Linked DNA regions of Homo sapiens. The protein of the gene in region 2 purifies or fractionates together with the protein of the main gene of each other region. This does not show direct contact. Each region holds a gene or a part of one and is shown on either strand. Other genes may lie near its edges.

Region 1 (4,917 bases), on a different chromosome or scaffold from region 2:
TTGCCATTCATTAGGTAAAAGGCACTGAGATATTCTATCAACATCCATTATCTCATTTAATCCTTACAAACATGGGATGGGGGAGGTTGTGTTATTATTTGTACTTTATAGATGAGGTGACTGAAGTGCATTCAAGTGGTGCTGTCTGCACAAAGAATAAGAATATTATTATTTTTTTTTCTGACTTCCCCAGTGCTGAGTCAAGATAGAGAGGAGTAGAAGGGCACTTAATTCAGAAACACTTTATGAGTGGAAATTTTAAAAATTGCCTTGAAATAGATGAATGATGGAAGCAGCTGTAAAGTCACAGCATTATTTTTTGTGGAATGAAGAGAGTGACAGTGAGAATTAAGACCTAGCATTGGTGAAGGGGAAGATAGAAGCAAGAGCCATGTGGGCCATGAGTGGAGAGAGGAAAAATAATTGAGTTACCATAAAAATAAACTGAGCTGAAATAATAACTGAAGAAGGAAAGAATGATGTTTAGTGAGTGAGAATAGCCTGCCCCATACTCTTGAAAATATTGGTGCTTGGTGTGTTATATGACTTTCTTGAAGAAAAGAGAAGGATGTGTATGTGAAGAGAAATGCTCAGTTTGCTCTTTATGATTTGTTTCCTTTTTATTTTTCTCCTATGCTTCTTTCCAATCCTTTTTCAGGTGAAGTGCTTCTTCTGCATGATTTTGGCTGAAGAATGCTCTGCATTTCCTTGATTTCTATGGAGACCTCAGAGCTGGTTTTGCTTCTGCTGACACCTCATCTAGCACCTTCTCTACCTCCCAGGGTCTTTGCCTCTATCTGTGGTTTGGCATTGTACCTGGGTACAGGAAGCCTTTGATGAACTTAAAAGGAGAGCCTGGAGAATCATCCTGATAGACTTTGAGTAGAAATGGCTGGACATACTTCAAACCACATCTTAACATGGTTCGAGCCATCACTAGAAGGCAAGTGCTAACAGTAAAGGCTTATTTGCATTTTATTTACATTTAATGGACTGAGCATTGGCCAATTTCCATGGCAGAAAAATATATTTCATTTTCTAGGCACAACTTCTGGCTGTCAGACACTTGCTGCCTTTGAATCTTGCAGCAACATCACTAACCACATCCCAGACATATTTCCAAATTTCAACATCTACCCCCAAAACATAGGTGTCTGAGAGACTCCAGCATTTTCGGACTTCTTAGTCTTGAGAGTGCCAGGCTATTTATCTCGACCAGCCAAGCTCTGGAGAGCAATGTTGAATCCCTGAGAAGAGAGAGCATGGGGCGTGCTGATTTAAAAACAGAAAATGCAAAGTTGGACTGAAAATATCCTTAGTCTTCCAAGCAATCTGCTTAAGGGTTCCAAACTTACCTTAATTTGGTGAGAAAAGAAGCTGCCCTATTTTTCTTTCTTCTTCTTCTACAACTGGAACCAGCCATTTCCGAAAACCACCACCATGGAGGTTGCAATGGTGAGTGCGGAGAGCTCAGGGTGCAACAGTCACATGCCTTATGGTTATGCTGCCCAGGCCCGGGCCCGGGAGCGGGAGAGGCTTGCTCACTCCAGGGCAGCTGCAGCAGCTGCTGTTGCAGCGGCCACAGCTGCTGTCGAAGGTAGCGGGGGTTCTGGTGGGGGCTCCCACCACCACCACCAGTCACGCGGGGCCTGTACCTCCCATGACCCTCAGAGCAGCCGGGGTAGTCGGAGGAGGAGGCGACAGCGGTCTGAGAAGAAGAAAGCCCACTACCGGCAGAGCAGCTTCCCTCATTGCTCTGACCTGATGCCCAGTGGCTCTGAGGAGAAGATCCTGAGGGAGCTGAGTGAGGAGGAGGAAGATGAGGAGGAGGAGGAAGAGGAGGAAGAGGAGGGAAGGTTTTACTATAGTGAAGATGACCATGGTGATGAGTGTTCCTACACGGATCTGCTGCCTCAGGATGAGGGCGGTGGCGGCTACAGTTCAGTCCGCTACAGTGACTGTTGTGAACGTGTGGTGATAAATGTGTCAGGCCTACGCTTTGAGACCCAAATGAAAACTCTGGCCCAGTTTCCAGAGACTTTGTTGGGAGACCCTGAAAAGAGGACTCAGTACTTTGACCCTTTGCGCAATGAGTATTTTTTTGACAGGAACCGCCCCAGCTTTGATGCCATCTTGTATTATTATCAATCAGGAGGCCGCCTGAAGAGGCCAGTCAATGTCCCCTTTGATATCTTCACTGAGGAGGTGAAGTTCTATCAGTTGGGGGAGGAGGCCCTGTTGAAGTTTCGGGAGGACGAGGGCTTTGTGAGAGAAGAGGAAGACAGGGCCCTCCCCGAGAATGAATTTAAAAAGCAGATTTGGCTCCTCTTTGAATATCCAGAGAGCTCCAGTCCTGCAAGGGGCATAGCCATTGTGTCCGTCCTGGTCATCTTAATCTCCATTGTCATCTTTTGCCTGGAAACCTTGCCTGAGTTTAGGGACGACAGGGATCTCGTCATGGCACTGAGTGCTGGCGGGCATGGTGGGTTGTTGAATGATACTTCAGCACCCCATCTGGAGAACTCAGGGCACACAATATTCAATGACCCCTTCTTCATCGTGGAAACAGTCTGTATTGTATGGTTTTCCTTTGAGTTTGTGGTTCGCTGCTTTGCTTGTCCCAGCCAAGCACTCTTCTTCAAAAACATCATGAACATCATTGACATTGTCTCCATTTTGCCTTACTTCATCACACTGGGCACTGACCTGGCCCAGCAACAGGGGGGTGGCAATGGTCAGCAGCAGCAGGCCATGTCCTTTGCCATCCTCAGAATCATTCGTCTGGTCCGAGTATTCCGGATCTTCAAACTCTCCAGGCACTCCAAAGGCCTGCAGATCCTGGGCCACACCCTCAGAGCCAGCATGCGGGAACTGGGCCTTCTGATCTTCTTCCTCTTCATTGGGGTCATCCTCTTTTCTAGTGCTGTGTATTTTGCAGAGGCGGATGAACCTACTACCCATTTCCAAAGCATCCCAGATGCATTTTGGTGGGCTGTGGTGACCATGACAACTGTGGGCTATGGGGACATGAAGCCCATCACTGTAGGGGGCAAGATTGTCGGGTCCCTGTGTGCCATTGCGGGTGTCTTAACCATTGCTTTGCCAGTGCCAGTGATTGTCTCTAACTTTAACTATTTCTACCACAGAGAGACTGAAAATGAGGAACAGACACAGCTAACGCAGAATGCAGTCAGTTGTCCATACCTCCCCTCTAATTTGCTCAAGAAATTTCGGAGCTCTACTTCTTCTTCCCTGGGGGACAAGTCAGAGTATCTAGAGATGGAAGAAGGAGTTAAGGAATCTCTGTGTGCAAAGGAGGAGAAGTGTCAGGGAAAGGGGGATGACAGTGAGACAGATAAAAACAACTGTTCTAATGCAAAGGCTGTGGAGACTGATGTGTGAATCTTTTTCCACCTGCCACTGCTCCCCCCTCAGCATCTCCAAATATATTTATGCATAGAGAGTGCAGTTATGAAAATGAAATATGCAAATGATCCAATGCATACAGTAGTACACTATTTAATGGTTATACATGGCATAATTGTTACTAAACTTGTATTACATATCAAATAAATGATACATCTTGGAGAAGAGGGAGGAATAGGAGCAAATCTATCTTTATATTTTTATTAGAATGCAAGAATTTTGCACATTAACTGGAAAAGATGTTAACAGTAAAGATGGAGAGAGAGAGTGTGTGCGTGTGTGTGTATATGTGTGTGTGTGTGAAGTAAATTGTCAATGTTAGTAATTGTGCAGTGAAGGGAAAAGTTGGCATTTTGAAGTATTTACTATGTAAGAACTAATGAATCTGAGCAGTCATTTATCAGTGCTTTAACAGCATATCGTATGTCTTTGGATTCTGTAGTTGTTTTTTAAAAATTGTAAGAAATACTGTGTAGAGAAAAAAGAAAGTAAATTATTTAATAGACTATAGGTCACAATTTTATCTTGGATTTAATTAAAATTTATTTTTAACTGGAAATTAACTTTTAAAAAGGCTGCAAGGGCCTTTAGAAATTGATTATATTTTGTTATTAATTTTGGGAAGACTTAACAGCAAATGTCTAACATTATAGAATAAGTGAAATTGGAGAATATGTAATAAGTTTTGTTTGCAGGTAACAGGACTGGATTTTTTTTTCTTTGCACTACTTTATATGCTGGAGATTGAGAGAGACTTCAAACTGTGAATGTTTACTAATGTAACAGTTCAATGACAATCATTGGAAGAATGATTTCTTTAGTCTTATTTTATTGTTTTCTTTTCATTGTGTGAGACTAATGATCATGCAGATAACATCACAGGATTCTCTCCTCTTTTAAAATCTAAATAACTGATTGACAAAGGAATTATGAAGTAAAATTTAGCAACTGAATCTTTTGAAATTGGTCTGTTAGAATGATGCTTCTGAAATCATACTATTTTATATATTCTTCTGCCTTTTAACTCCAGAATAATTTAACCAAAGTTAATGCATGCACTGAAAGAATTCTTGAAGAAGATGCCAAGCAGCTACAGTGATTATGGCTTAAAATTTTTCTATTAAATGTGAAACATAAACGCTAGATTTATTAAGTTTATTTTTTTGTGCAGTTATATAAGAACAGAATTTGGGGATTAACCTCAGATTTTAACATTATATTTGCTAAAATGGACATAAGGAAGAATTGTGTCAAACATTTGGTTTCAACATCACCATCATTATTATCTTTATTAAAGGAATTTATGACACATATAACTGCATTTAAGTCATGACAAAGCATTCTAGAATGTGAGATAACAACTAGCGATCAGCCTTGCACTATGAAATCATGAGGTATAGGTTAGAAAACTCAGAATGCATAAGAGGCCTTATTCTACAATGTTTATTTAACTTCTGTTCTTTATAAAATGATTGTCTTGAGCTCTGGTTG
Region 2 (7,116 bases):
GACTCCAACTGCGGTGTTCTCTCCAATCACCATCCATTGGGAAGCTTGGGGGGACTTTTTTGCTCTGGGGGATAAATTACTACATAGAGGAGAAGAAGCGTTCAGCGCTTTGAAAATCGGTTTTGGTTACTTTGGCGTTTTTTATTCTTTCTACTCCTGCGATCTCAGCCCCCTCCGCTCCCCCATCCTCCTGCTACAGGCGTCTTTCCATGTGTGCTTTGCTGCTGCAGGGACTTGAAAGTTAAATTGTGTTCCAGTTATTGTTTTTTATTTGTTCATATACAGCACGCACGTGCGTGTGTTGATATATTTTTTTCCTTTTTAACTAAACGCGTGTTCTGCACGGTGATTTGTGCCTCCCCGCTGTGCCTTCGTCGTGCCACGCCTCTCAGTGCTCCCAGCTATCAACTCTGGTCTCTTTAAATCTTTCTTCTATCACCAGGGGACCCATTTAGTTCCTCCAAGTCAAGGACATTCATCATAGAAGGTACACAGTGCCCCCAGCCTGACTATTGACTTCTGTGTCCAAGCTGCATTTTATGAGACAGTATTTTTATTTACATGATTCTTTTACCCCATGAGAAACTTCTCCATAAAATGCATAAAGAGGGGAAAGAGCACCCTATGAGAACACCTTGCAAGTGAAGGAAAAGCAAAGTGGTGTTGGAGCCCCTCGCCCCCAGCCCCCCATCCCCTCGTTCCTCCTTCCTCCCGTGCATGGCCCCCACCCCTGGGCTTGCACTGCTGAGCTCCGCGGCGGCCGGGGGTCCTCTTGATCTGAGGATGCTGTGATCCCCACCTGGAGCCTTGACCCTGGATGGTGCCATGGGAAGGGTTGGGGAAGACCAGGTTTCCACAAGGAGCAAAGCCATCAGGGACCCCAAAACACGCGGCCCCCCACCGAGTCTTAGCTCCTCCATGGTTTATGTTTGCTAAGCTCCTGTCTCTCCTGGAGGCAGAGATCACCTGGCTTGTCACGCTGCCCCGTCCACAGCACGCTGCTCCTCGGACGGCATGCTGGCTGCGTGTCCCCTCTCACCAGGTTGCCAAAGCGCTCCATCAACGTGGAATCATTTTCCTCCTGAAAGAATAACCACAGGAGCCGGCAGCCTTCTGAAACCAGGGGGTGGCCTCTGGCCACGCACAGTCTCTCTGCCCTCCCCACAGCTAACGGCCCCAGGACCCCACCCCAAGGGCAGGTGTCGATCTCCCTGGGCCTGGGCCCCTGTCTGCCAACTGGTGCTGCCACCTGAACCCCCATGTATTATTTGTGATGCGGCAGGAGATGCTGTGAGTTTTGGCAGCAGCTAGAAGGATTCAGTCTTCCTACTTCCGTTCAACCCCATTAAATATTGAGGTGAAGGACAGTTGTCCCTAATTGTCCCTGGGTCTGGGGCCACTGATATCACACTTGGGCACAAGTGCAGGGTGCTCCCTCATGTGGGCTCCCTGTCCAGCCTGCTTCTGCCCAGATCCTCCAGGGAGCCCAGGGGCCTTTGCCTAGGACTCCCCACCTCAGGACAGCCAGAGGCTCCTGCCCCGTCAGCCCCGTCTCTCCATCACTGCATGGAAGGGGCGCCGCAGGGCAGCATGCGGTTTCACTGGCTGGGACCTTGGAGACCTGAGACAGCTGCCGGGGAGGGAGAGTGAGGGAACGGGGCTGGCCTTGGGGGCCTTGGCTTCCCTCTGTCTGGCATGTGGACCTAAGCCTTGGCTGAGAAGAATCGGGAACTGATGCTGCATGCTCACAGGTGCCCCGAGAGTGTTTCTAAAAAACCACAAGGCCGGGCAGGCCAGGAGCCCGGACCTGGGCAGGATGTAGTCAGAGATTCTCCTGGGACCCTCTAGGTTCTCCTCAAACTTTCCCAACCAGGCACTTCCTGAGGGTCTATCGGAGTTGGCAGTTAAAGCAGGTGGCCCAGGGAGGTGGCCCAGAGAGTTCAGACTCCCTCCCAGATCTCCACCCCCAGGAGGGGACAGAGAGGATTCCCAGGAGCTACAACCTCTGACCTTGGAAGTAAGCAGAGAGCAGGGCTGGGCCTGCAAGCGTGGAAGCCAAGGGTGGTTTGCCAGGGGTCCTGGGTGAGTCTGCCGAGACCACCACTCCAGAAACCCCAGTGGCCTCAGCTCTAGCCTTTAGGAGGCCCCAGGTTCTGCTCAGGGTGGACCTCAGTAAAGGGGCACTCAGGGAGCGACCCCCAAAACAGAAGTGGACGGGAAGCCAGCACTGCCACTTTGTGGCCTCGTTGCCATTCCAGGGGGGAGCCTGCAGAACAAACCCAGCATCTTCCATCCTTCCTTCCTTCCCATCAGCCCCACTCCCAGCATTTTCAGGACCTCAGCTTCCACGCAGCATGGGCAAAGGACAAGCAGGCACTGAGGGAGAGCCAGGGCTTTTCCAGGGTCAACGTTGTTGCTGTCTTTAGAAACACTTGCACTCCCACTCACTCCCACACTGCCTTTGGCGGTCGAACTTGCAAGCACTGTATCCGACCCGTGAGAAGCCTAGCGCCATAGTCCCTCGCCCTGCAAAGCTCAGAGGCTTCTGAAATTTGAAATTTCGACGCCAAGTTCTGTTTTTAAAATCACAATATCCCCATGAGGCTGAGAGGGAGCTATAACCAGCAGATTGCTGTGTCTCAAAGCCATGTTTGAATATTGGGAAGAATCCACTGTGTCGCTGGGGCGAGGGTCCCTCCTCTCTTCTTTAAAAGGCCAGCGTGAAGTCTCCGCGATTTCATCCTCAGGGCCTTAGGAGTCTCCGCCGTCCACGATTCAGGTTGTTCCCAGGGCTCATGGAGCCTCAAAACTGTCCTACTCCAGGCCCTGGCCCCTCACAGGAGGAGCACCCAGACCCCTGTGGCCCTGGGACCACCCCTTGCCAGGGGACAGGCGGGTTGGGACTCTGGCCTGGTGCTGGGCTGGTTTGAGAACCTGGGCCATGGTCTTACAAGGCTTTCCACGCCCACTTCTCAGTCTCCTGGACATGACAGGAAACATGAGCTCAGCCCCGAAGCCCTATTCTCCGGGACCATATGGCGCCCCAGGTCCTGCCACATCTCCTTATCCAGCCCACTCTCTGTTCCAATTAGACTTTGGAATAGCCCGAAGTAGGAGACCAGAAACGCAAAAACACATGTCCCTCCTGCCGCCAATCTGACTGTAACGTTCATGCATTCACCTGGTCCTTCCTGAGTGATCGGGGCCCTCGAATCTTCCCCAGACCAGAGAACCTCCAGTTCTAGAGTCCAGAGCCACATTCTTTGATTGTCCCCTCTAATCTACCATAGAAACATCACGGTCCATCCATAACCCATTTTTCAACATTTCCATAGGCCTGTAACCAGTCGGGGAAATTGTTTTCACGACCAACTTCTAGGATTGTGGTTCACTTTTCTCTTTCATCCCAAAAAACCCCTCCCACACCCAACTTCAGAGCCAGGAAGTACACTGCTTGCAAGACATCTTCGCAGCCCCTGTCCCTCCTCCCAGCGTCCTGCCTGTATTTGCAGAATGTCCCGAGGCTGGCCCTGAGCCCTGGCTGCCCCCCACCTGCGGTTTCCCTTTCTCTCACGACAGAGACCGTCCGCGCCATGACCCACGTCATCAACCAGGGGATGGCCATGTACTGGGGCACGTCACGCTGGAGCTCCATGGAGATCATGGTACGGTGGCCGCGCAGCATGTGTGTGTCCAGGCACAGACTCCCGGCACCGGCTGCGTATGGAGACCCCAAAGCTCTGGCGGGGTCTGTGCCTTTGGTCCCAACTGCACCGATGCCTGGGTGCTAAGGGAGGGACAGGATGGTGGAGTGTGGTGGTTATGTCTGTAGGCCTTGCAGACGGGGATTCTGCATGGATCCCAGCGCTGTGTGGCCCTGGACAAATGGCTTAACGTCTCTGAGCTTGTTTCCCCACCTGTAGAACACATCTGCTAGGTGAGCCCCCATGGGGCCATTCTAAGGAGTCCCTGAGAGAGCCAGTGTGAAGCTCTTAGCAGATGCCCTGGAGCTCAGCAAGCACTCTGGGGTGACAACACCGTCAGCTGTTTCCACTGGGCTCCTGAGACGTGCCCGGTGCTGTTAGGGTCAAGGGTTCCACAGGGACCCTCTCACATGCAATCCTCACCGGTGCCTTTACCAGGTGAGTGCCGCAGGCAGCCCATTTTTCAGATGTGGACACTGTGGCACAGAGAGGTTCAGTAACATGCCAAGGTCACACAGCTTGGGCCAAGATTAACATCCAGGCTGTGTGGTTCAGAGCCTGGGCTGCTCATAACTGGACCCTCCGGCCTGGGGGTCCCACCACCCACCTCCTTTTCCCAGCTCACCAGGGCCTGCCTGGCTCCCAGGGAAGCTATGAGTGTGAGCAGTGGGGAGCCCGGGCTGCAGCTGCTGGGCCAGCCTGCTCCGGGGACACCTTGGTGCCCTCTCCATGGCTGCCCCGGCAGCCTCCCGCCTGCTCACAGGCAAGGGCCCTCGGGGTCCCTTTCTGCCTTCACAGGAGGCCTACTCCGTGGCCCGGCAGTTCAACCTGACCCCGCCCATCTGCGAGCAGGCTGAGTACCACATGTTCCAGCGTGAGAAAGTGGAGGTGCAGCTGCCGGAGCTGTTCCACAAGATAGGTGGGCACCCTCGGGCCCCTCGCCCCGCCCCACCCCACCCCTGCTCTCGGGCCCAGGGCTTGACTCCACCTGCTTTTCCTCTTCAGGAGTGGGCGCCATGACCTGGTCCCCTCTGGCCTGTGGCATTGTTTCTGGCAAGTACGACAGTGGCATCCCACCCTACTCAAGAGCCTCCTTGAAGGTGAAGGAACAGCCTGGTGGGGAGGGACGGGCAGGGGATAGGCATTTTGGACGGGTGGGACCTTTGGGCCGACTGCTTTGGTGCTGGGCAGGGGTTCCGGGAGCTGCAGCTGTTCCCACCTCGGTCTGCTGGGGGCGGGCTCCTTGGCGTGAGAACATGGAGCCCCTCCTGGCCTGATCCCATGTGTAGAGGGGCTGCCCAGCCTGTGGCACAGGCCCAAGTGGAGAGGCCCTTTCACATCCCCCCCCCTGCCCCCACCACATCCCCCCATCTCTACCCCCTACCACATCCCCCACCTCTGCCCCCCACCACAGCCCAGCATTCAGAACTCTGAGACCCCTGGGCCTGGGCTCCGAGATGGGGGCTGCAAAGCCACATGGAGGTGACCCTGGGAGAGGCGCCCCTCCCCACCACACAACCTCTGAGTGGGGACTCAGGAGGGTCCCCAGACTGCAGGATCTGGAGAACAAGGAGCAGGCCAAGAAAGTCTGCCCAGCCAGCAGTCTCAGCACTGGGGCCCACAGCCCTGGGTTCCAGGGCAACGTGGCCTGGCCCCCGACTCCTCCCATCCCATGGCAAGGTCAGGGCCCCCCTCCAGGAGGCCCTGCAATCCTCTGGGGGGGATGGCCAGGGGAGAGAGCACTCCCCTAGGGCCAGGAGGTTCTTCTGGGCCACGGGTGGCAGCCGAGACCCCAGGCTGCCAAGTTTCCTAAGAGAAGGAAGGCCAGCACCTCGCCTCCTTGTCCTGACTTGGGGTTGGGCCAGCACCACAGTCTTTGCACTTCAGAGCCTGGACAGGCCCCGCTCATCCACCAGCCCGTGCCCGGCCCACTGCCCACTCTCCCCTACTTGAGAGGCCTGGGGCAGGGGCACTGCCCTGGCTTCAAGATGAGAAGAGCCCCTATGAGGGAGAAGGGTCCAGAAGGAATGAGCCCATCGGCCCCCTGCACGTGGGGGTCCAGGTGACCTGCTCTCATCTGTAGCTGTGCTGCTCCCCTCCCCCGCAACCAGGGCTACCAGTGGCTGAAGGACAAGATCCTCAGTGAGGAGGGCCGGCGCCAGCAAGCCAAGCTGAAGGAGCTGCAGGCCATCGCCGAGCGCCTGGGCTGCACCCTGCCCCAGCTGGCCATAGGTAACGGTGGGGTCGCCATGGGGCCAGTGCCCCTGGGGAGAACCTGCCCCAGCTGGCCGTAGGTAACAGGGTGGGGTTGCCATGGGGCCAGTGTCTCCGGGGAGAGAGGGAAGGGATCCCTGGACATCATCCCCCAGCCAGCCTCGGGTAATCGGGCTCTAAGGGGCATGGTTGGGACCCCATGCCTCTAGGGGGATGTCAGGAGTCCCTGAGGACCTGGGCCACCCCCTCCATCTGCCAGCCATAGGTAATGGGGCTCCCGCTTTCATGGGAAGAGGATGGGGAGCGCTAAGCACTTGGGCCACCTCTCCATCAGGGAGCAGCGGGCTCCCCCATGCCTCCTCCAGCCACCTCTTAGACAAAGCCCGTGCCCAGCACTGCAGGGCTTCCTAGACCCCCTCAGACCCCCAGACCAAGATGCTGGGTCTCTCGGCCCAGTCAGAGGCAAGGCAGACCCATCAGGGGCCCCTGTGGTGGGTGTTTCTCCCTCACCTTGGGTCTCGCCGCCACAGCCTGGTGCCTGAGGAATGAGGGAGTCAGCTCCGTGCTCCTGGGGGCCTCCAATGCGGACCAGCTCATGGAGAACATTGGGGCAATACAGGTAAGAGTGAGAGGCCCTGCTGGGCAGAGGGCCCATCCCAGCCCGAGCCCCGTCCAGTGCATCCTCCCAGGCTCGTCCTGCGTGCCAGGCTCTGTTCTAGGCACTCAGGATGCGCCCGTGAACCATCAGAGTTGTGCTCCTGGAGAGCTTGCTTTCCAGCAGGAACAGACATGAACACTAACTGCACGAAACAAGGAGGTTAGAATGTGTGTCAGGGTGGACGAGCGCTGTAGGAGAGAAGCCAGAGATAAAGGGAGGGAGCTGGGGCCAGGGACGGTGGCGCTGCAGACTCAGGTTCAAGGGGGCCTGTCAGGTGGGCTTGTTGAGAAGGTGGTGCTTGAGCAGTCTTGAGAGATGCGGAGTAAGTCACGCAAATGCCTGCGGGAAGAACCTTCCACCAGCAGGAAGAGTTGATGCAAAGGCCCAAAAAGGCCTGGAGCAGAGGGGCAGATCCTGAGAGGCACGAAACACCTCCAGGGACTTCTGAGTGAGACGGGAGCCGTGGCAAAATTGTGGGCAGAGGAGGGCGAGCTGCAGCTCAGCCTGGAAAGGGAGGCTGCTCTCCGGCTGCTCCATCGG
Region 3 (7,019 bases), on a different chromosome or scaffold from region 2:
TTTACCAGAGGAATAAAAAAGAAGCTGGAAAAGCAGCTCCGAGCGCACTTCTCTTACTCAAGCTCTCTGGACCATGCCTGGGTTTCCTGGTGGAGCCCTGCCAGAGCTGGCTAGGGATGCTTTAGAGATGTGGTCTTTTCAGCAGCAACCTCTCTTCCTCTTGAAAGAAAGGAGCAGAGGGATCCTGAGCCCCGAGACTTGGACAGACAGACTGGCTAGTATTTTTACCTGGCTGGCAGGGTGTGTCAGACAAGGCCACTGCTAGGATCCTGTCCTCACATTGGGCTTCCTGCATCTATGAACTCCCTGCACCACAGAGGAGTAAAATCAATGTCTGACAGAAAGACTAGTGGCATATTTTCTGCCTCCCTCTGTCCCTTTAAATGCTGTCCAATGGGGAAAGTTTTTCCCTGACCTAGTTGAAAATCCAGCAGGTCTCCTTGTTTTGTGTTACTCATATAATAAACAGAGCTATAGTCACCTCAGGTCTCAAACACAAGAAATTAAGCCATACAGTCCAAAATATGAAATTGTTGCTTTTTGCCCACAAAGTTGAAGTGGTCTGTGATAATGCAGTGGTATATAACCCGAACAAATGGTTATAAGTCTTCAGATGGTTAGGTCCCATCTCTACAACCACTTTGCGTACTTAGCTAATCTCAGAAACCACCTTTCAGTTCCTATTCCCAGGTTTCCCCTCCCTCGCTGCTCCAACAGCTGAATTTCCTTCCCCTAGTTCAATTGCGTTCAGTACATATTTAGTGAAATGCATAATATGGACGTGGCACCATGTTTGGTGTTGTGAAGAAAATCAAAGATCAATAAAAAATGTTCCTTGAGTTCAAAATATCTCTCTCTCTCTGTTAGCTCTCTCCCTCTCTCTCATCTACCTACCTATCATTTATAAATAGATAAATAGGTAACTAGAGAGTAGCTAGCTAGAAAGGTAGGTAGGTAAATAGATAGATAGATTGATGGATAGACAGATATAGTGTGGTAGATACCATTTGCAGATGCGATAGCTAGATAGCTAGATACATACATGCATACATACACAGAGATAAAAATCTATTCTTATGGGAATGTGATCTCTAGACAGGTGCATCAGTATCACCTGGGCGCTGTGTGAAATGCACTCTAAGCCCTACCCTGGTTCAGAGTCTGCATGTTAACAAGATCCTCAGGCAATGGTGCACATTAAGCACTGCTATAAAAGAGTTAACCTCGTAGGATTAGATAGTAAAGAAGGCAGCTTTCAGTTATACAATGTGTGCTCTGGGAAGAAGACAGAGATCGAGGTAGGAGTGTAAGAGGTTTACTGGGAGATAATAAAGAAAGTTAAAAGTGATAGGAAGAAGAATTCATTAGGGAAAGCATTCAGATTATGATGCTGATCTGGCACTTGTGAAAGGAAGGAGGGGAGGAAGAGGGGTTGGACAGAGTCTCAGAGTGGAATGTAGATCTTTCAAAGTCTTGGCCAATCTGCTGGGGAAATGCAGAGCAAAGATTGCCATTAGTGGAAATCTGCACTGAGTAGAAATGGCCAGGTCTTTGTAACCCTGCTGTGCTCAGAGGGCTACCCCAAAGGAGTGTGGCCCCTGCACTAAAGCTGAGGCAGTGCCAACAGCTGGAGCCTGTCAGCTAACTGCACTCTGGCAGTTGAAAAGCAAATTCTTTCTTTAAGGGAGATTTGAGCAGTATACCTCCATGGCTACCACATGTGACATCTGAAGGTAATTTTGCCAGAAACCTATAAGAACTGGCAAATGCATGGGAAACAGATTTAAGGAAATACCACATTAAAGGAGGCCTGGGTTTTGTGCTTTTCCTGGACTGTTTATGTTGTACTCTTATTCTTCAGGGAACAATCTCCCAGAAAGCCCCTGAAAGACAAGCTCCAGAGAATTCTTTCCTCTGGGGAGCCCGAGGAGAACCCAGGTGAACCAATGTAGCATCCTTATATTTACAAGATGCATGAATCAGTAGACAAGACTGTCATGGGTCTCTGACCTCACTGTCTGCAAGCTCAGTAAGTCCCAGGCTCCCCAGGAAAAATACCTGATCCTGACTGGCAACCTCAGAGCCAGAGAAGAATGAAAGCCCACTGGAGATGAAGCAGGGATGGCACAGATATGGGGAAAGGGGATGCAAGGCCCTGTGGTTAACCAGTGATGCCTTCACATACTGATTTTCATGTTCATACCCTTCCTCACTCATGCACGTCTGCAAAGACAGCCAACAATATGCACAGTCACACAGAATGAAAATACTTACGCACACCAAATTCACATCCACCTTCACATATAAACTCTTAAAAAGCCATATGCACACATACTTCTCAAACCTTGACCCAAGTTTGTGTGTCTATGCGCTGCTATTGCAACACACACTTGTGCACCCAGGACCAAGTTTCCAAATCACACCCTTTGGATAGAGACATTCATTGACAAGAGGTCCTAACTTCACGCATATAAATCTGAAGCAATATGCAGAAACAAAAATAGACAATGAAAACAGACATTCAAAAACACAGCCACTTTATGATAATTTAAAACCAAGAAACTTCTGGAGACTGTGTCTGGCAGTTCCAGACACACACCTTGAAACAGATTCCTCTTGGTTACCAATGCCTGCTAAAACCCTGCAGGGGTTGAGACAGGGCAGGGGAAGATTTCCTAGTGTCCCAACCTAGAAAGATTAATATGTTATATCAGCCATCATCCTGCCTTCTGCAGCAGGGAACTAAAGTTCTCAGGCCAGATGTTGGAGTGAGGGAGTGCTTGTATCAGGAAAAGGGATTATGCATTTCTATAGAGGAGTGAAATATAGGGGACAAGGGCCAAACTCTGATTGTTTGAGTTTGAGTTCCAGCATCATCAGTTTCCACCTGCATAAGCCTGGGTGAGTCTGTCAATCTCTCTGTGCCTCAGTTTCTTCATTTATAAAATGGTGATGATAATAGTACTTACAAAATAGGTTGCTGTAGGAATACACAGAGACAATATTTGTAAAGTGCTGAGAGTGGGCTGGTGCATAATGAGAGCCAAGTAAGTATTGGTTGTTATTATTCCATTCTTGGGAATGCTCCAGCCTTGGAGATTGGACAACCTCCCTGGCTCCCTCTCATAAGCCACCTCCACCCTCAGTCTCCTTCATGGACCTAGATGCAGTTGCTCGGTCCAAGATTCACCAGGCAGGATTAGCCCTCACCAGGATTGTAAAAATCGCTTCTCCCCTTCCCTGCTGTGGTTTTTGCAAATGGGATTCGTTGGAGCGGGTGGAGGGGTTCTGCTGGGTTGAGACCAGACAGCTCATCTCCTGACTAGGCTGCTTGCCTGGGCTGCCACCAGGTCTGTACTGGAAACAGGCTAGGGCATGGGAATCCTGCAGGGTTCCAACCCCCTTGTACATTTTTGTGGATCTGTAGGAAGACGGGAAGAGAGATGCTTCTCCATTGATACATGTATTTCAAGGTCCGTAACTACGTGGCCCCCCTCCCTTCTGTAATCCTTCCCAAAGAAATACCGTTATTTCTCCAAAATAAAAAGGACTGGTGTCTCCCGTCTCTGTCTCTCATACTCCGACTCAGCTCAAAGCCTCGTCCCTTTAGCCCAAGGCACTTCGTTCCTCCTGGAGTCCACTCGGCTTCCAGCGGGTTCCCAGGTGAACTGAAATCCAGAGCTATTCTCATCTGGTTGCCCTGGGAATTTCAGCGCTGTCGGTACAACCTGTTCCTCCATCCTCCCCACTCCTTCCCTCCCTCCGCTGGGCTGCACCCTTCTCAGCCCCTCCTTTCCCTTGCTAGGGGCCCCAGCTGCGCCCTCCGGGGAGACACCCGCTGCCACGAGACCCGGGAGGGGAAGCGGGAGGAGGGGGAGAGGAGGGGAAGGCGGGGGAGGCGCCGAGGGTGGAGGCCAAGCGCGGCGCAGCCAGAGAGGGGCGGCTGAAGGTTGCATCTGCTGGAAGGAGGCTTTTCGGCTGCTTGGTAACGGGCTGCCAGAAGAGAGAGAGGCAGAGAGCAGGGCAGCGGCTTCTTGACGTCAGGGCCAAGCGAGGGGATCGCGCCAGCAACCCCAGCTCTCCCCAGAGAGGGGCCGGCCGACCGCTGGAGCGGAGCCTGACGCCAGGCGCCCGCGGAGCGTGAGTAGGGGGCGCGGGAGCCGGTCAGCTGGGGCGCAGCATGCCCTCTGCTCCCGCGCCATGGAGATCGCCCTGGTGCCCCTGGAGAACGGCGGTGCCATGACCGTCAGAGGAGGCGATGAGGCCCGGGCAGGCTGCGGCCAGGCCACAGGGGGAGAGCTCCAGTGTCCCCCGACGGCTGGGCTCAGCGATGGGCCCAAGGAGCCGGCGCCAAAGGGGCGCGGCGCGCAGAGAGACGCGGACTCGGGAGTGCGGCCCTTGCCTCCGCTGCCGGACCCGGGAGTGCGGCCCTTGCCTCCGCTGCCAGAGGAGCTGCCACGGCCTCGACGGCCGCCTCCCGAGGACGAGGAGGAAGAAGGCGATCCCGGCCTGGGCACGGTGGAGGACCAGGCTCTGGGCACGGCGTCCCTGCACCACCAGCGCGTCCACATCAACATCTCCGGGCTGCGCTTTGAGACGCAGCTGGGCACCCTGGCGCAGTTCCCCAACACACTCCTGGGGGACCCCGCCAAGCGCCTGCGCTACTTCGACCCCCTGAGGAACGAGTACTTCTTCGACCGCAACCGGCCCAGCTTCGACGGTATCCTCTACTACTACCAGTCCGGGGGCCGCCTGCGGAGGCCGGTCAACGTCTCCCTGGACGTGTTCGCGGACGAGATACGCTTCTACCAGCTGGGGGACGAGGCCATGGAGCGCTTCCGCGAGGATGAGGGCTTCATTAAAGAAGAGGAGAAGCCCCTGCCCCGCAACGAGTTCCAGCGCCAGGTGTGGCTTATCTTCGAGTATCCGGAGAGCTCTGGGTCCGCGCGGGCCATCGCCATCGTCTCGGTCTTGGTTATCCTCATCTCCATCATCACCTTCTGCTTGGAGACCCTGCCTGAGTTCAGGGATGAACGTGAGCTGCTCCGCCACCCTCCGGCGCCCCACCAGCCTCCCGCGCCCGCCCCTGGGGCCAACGGCAGCGGGGTCATGGCCCCGCCCTCTGGCCCTACGGTGGCACCGCTCCTGCCCAGGACCCTGGCCGACCCCTTCTTCATCGTGGAGACCACGTGCGTCATCTGGTTCACCTTCGAGCTGCTCGTGCGCTTCTTCGCCTGCCCCAGCAAGGCAGGGTTCTCCCGGAACATCATGAACATCATCGATGTGGTGGCCATCTTCCCCTACTTCATCACCCTGGGCACCGAACTGGCAGAGCAGCAGCCAGGGGGTGGAGGAGGCGGCCAGAATGGGCAGCAGGCCATGTCCCTGGCCATCCTCCGAGTCATCCGCCTGGTCCGGGTGTTCCGCATCTTCAAGCTCTCCCGCCACTCCAAGGGGCTGCAGATCCTGGGCAAGACCTTGCAGGCCTCCATGAGGGAGCTGGGGCTGCTCATCTTCTTCCTCTTCATCGGGGTCATCCTCTTCTCCAGTGCCGTCTACTTCGCAGAGGCTGACAACCAGGGAACCCATTTCTCTAGCATCCCTGACGCCTTCTGGTGGGCAGTGGTCACCATGACCACTGTGGGCTACGGGGACATGAGGCCCATCACTGTTGGGGGCAAGATCGTGGGCTCGCTGTGTGCCATCGCCGGGGTCCTCACCATTGCCCTGCCTGTGCCCGTCATCGTCTCCAACTTCAACTACTTCTACCACCGGGAAACGGATCACGAGGAGCCGGCAGTCCTTAAGGAAGAGCAGGGCACTCAGAGCCAGGGGCCGGGGCTGGACAGAGGAGTCCAGCGGAAGGTCAGCGGGAGCAGGGGATCCTTCTGCAAGGCTGGGGGGACCCTGGAGAATGCAGACAGTGCCCGAAGGGGCAGCTGCCCCCTAGAGAAGTGTAACGTCAAGGCCAAGAGCAACGTGGACTTGCGGAGGTCCCTTTATGCCCTCTGCCTGGACACCAGCCGGGAAACAGATTTGTGAAAGGAGATTCAGGCAGACTGGTGGCAGTGGAGTAGGGAATGGGAGGCTTGCTGAACATGGATATCTACATTATACCGCAGAGTATTTGAAGTCACACTGTAACCTCAGTCTACCCCTCTCCTTTCACTCCTTTCCTCCCTCCCTCGATCCCCCCATTTTCTCTATTCTTTCCATGACACCCAAGGGTCGCCTATTTTTAAAAAGTACCACATTCCATGACGCAGGAGCTGTGGAAATGGTGAGCGCTGTGAGATGGATGTATTTGTAGCCAGTCTCCTATACCCAGCAGAGGGATAACCCAAACAAAAATGACTCTAAATAGCCCAGATCCCAAGAGATTATGTAACTCCTCCATCCATGTGTTCCAAATTTGCTTTACATATGATTGTATTTGTGTATAGGGGAAAATATTATTTTTATGCCTGGTAAGTGGCTTTTTGTACTGTAGTTCAGATAGAGATATTTTGGGTATATTTTCAAGATACATGTTGTATTTATGGAAGAAAGAGTTGTCCTGATGTTTTTCTGTGTTACTTATATTAGAGTCAGAGATCTTGGTATGGGCTGTTCTGTTTCCTGTGTCTCCAAGCCTCTGTCTTTTCTGGGATGTGGTATTGGTGCTTTGTGTCTAGGGCAGAGTATGTTCTTGAAGAAAGGCAAATCTGACTTTTTCTGTGCGCCTTAAACAATTCTTGTAACTTTCTTCAAAAAGCATTTTAATGATATTGGAGGAATACTTCTGATAATTTATTGTCTTTATTTTTATCCCAGGAAATAAAAGGTTACCTTGTTGAGGCAAGTGTTAGTTTTTCTGCAGCTGATACATTTTCTGAAATTTTTAAAAATAGTCTGTCACTGGCTGTTTCTGGTTTTGACATCAGAGCAAACGCATTGACTGGGGTTAGAGGAAATCTGAAAAGCTCATGATTTGCTTGGCGACGTCTTTTCAGTGCACCCCTTGGTGCCTCATAGACAAT

The links.
Region 1: the proteins of KCNAB2 (region 2) and KCNA4 purify together in Homo sapiens (affinity purification with western blotting; 2 studies listed by BioGRID and IntAct, with this or other methods). This does not show direct contact.
Region 3: the proteins of KCNAB2 (region 2) and KCNA5 purify together in Homo sapiens (co-immunoprecipitation; 4 studies listed by BioGRID and IntAct, with this or other methods). This does not show direct contact.

What each region holds. Positions count from the first base shown.
Region 1 is NC_000011.10:30,009,202-30,014,118, reverse strand, and holds the end of KCNA4 (potassium voltage-gated channel subfamily A member 4), read left to right. Parts: intron 1-658; 5' UTR 659-1,440; coding exon 1,441-3,402; 3' UTR 3,403-4,389; downstream 4,390-4,917. UniProt on the Homo sapiens protein: Voltage-gated potassium channel that mediates transmembrane potassium transport in excitable membranes. Forms tetrameric potassium-selective channels through which potassium ions pass in accordance with their electrochemical gradient.
Region 2 is NC_000001.11:6,090,821-6,097,936, forward strand, and holds part of KCNAB2 (voltage-gated potassium channel subunit beta-2), read left to right. Parts: intron 1-442; coding exon 443-487; coding exon of another isoform or gene 488-516; exon of another isoform or gene 517-3,560; intron 3,561-3,579; coding exon 3,580-3,665; intron 3,666-4,502; coding exon 4,503-4,623; intron 4,624-4,709; coding exon 4,710-4,804; intron 4,805-5,815; coding exon 5,816-5,936; intron 5,937-6,448; coding exon 6,449-6,537; coding exon of another isoform or gene 6,538-6,711; exon of another isoform or gene 6,712-6,735; intron 6,736-7,116.
Region 3 is NC_000012.12:5,039,948-5,046,966, forward strand, and holds KCNA5 (potassium voltage-gated channel subfamily A member 5), read left to right. Parts: upstream 1-3,931; 5' UTR 3,932-4,200; coding exon 4,201-6,042; 3' UTR 6,043-6,841; downstream 6,842-7,019. UniProt on the Homo sapiens protein: Voltage-gated potassium channel that mediates transmembrane potassium transport in excitable membranes. Forms tetrameric potassium-selective channels through which potassium ions pass in accordance with their electrochemical gradient.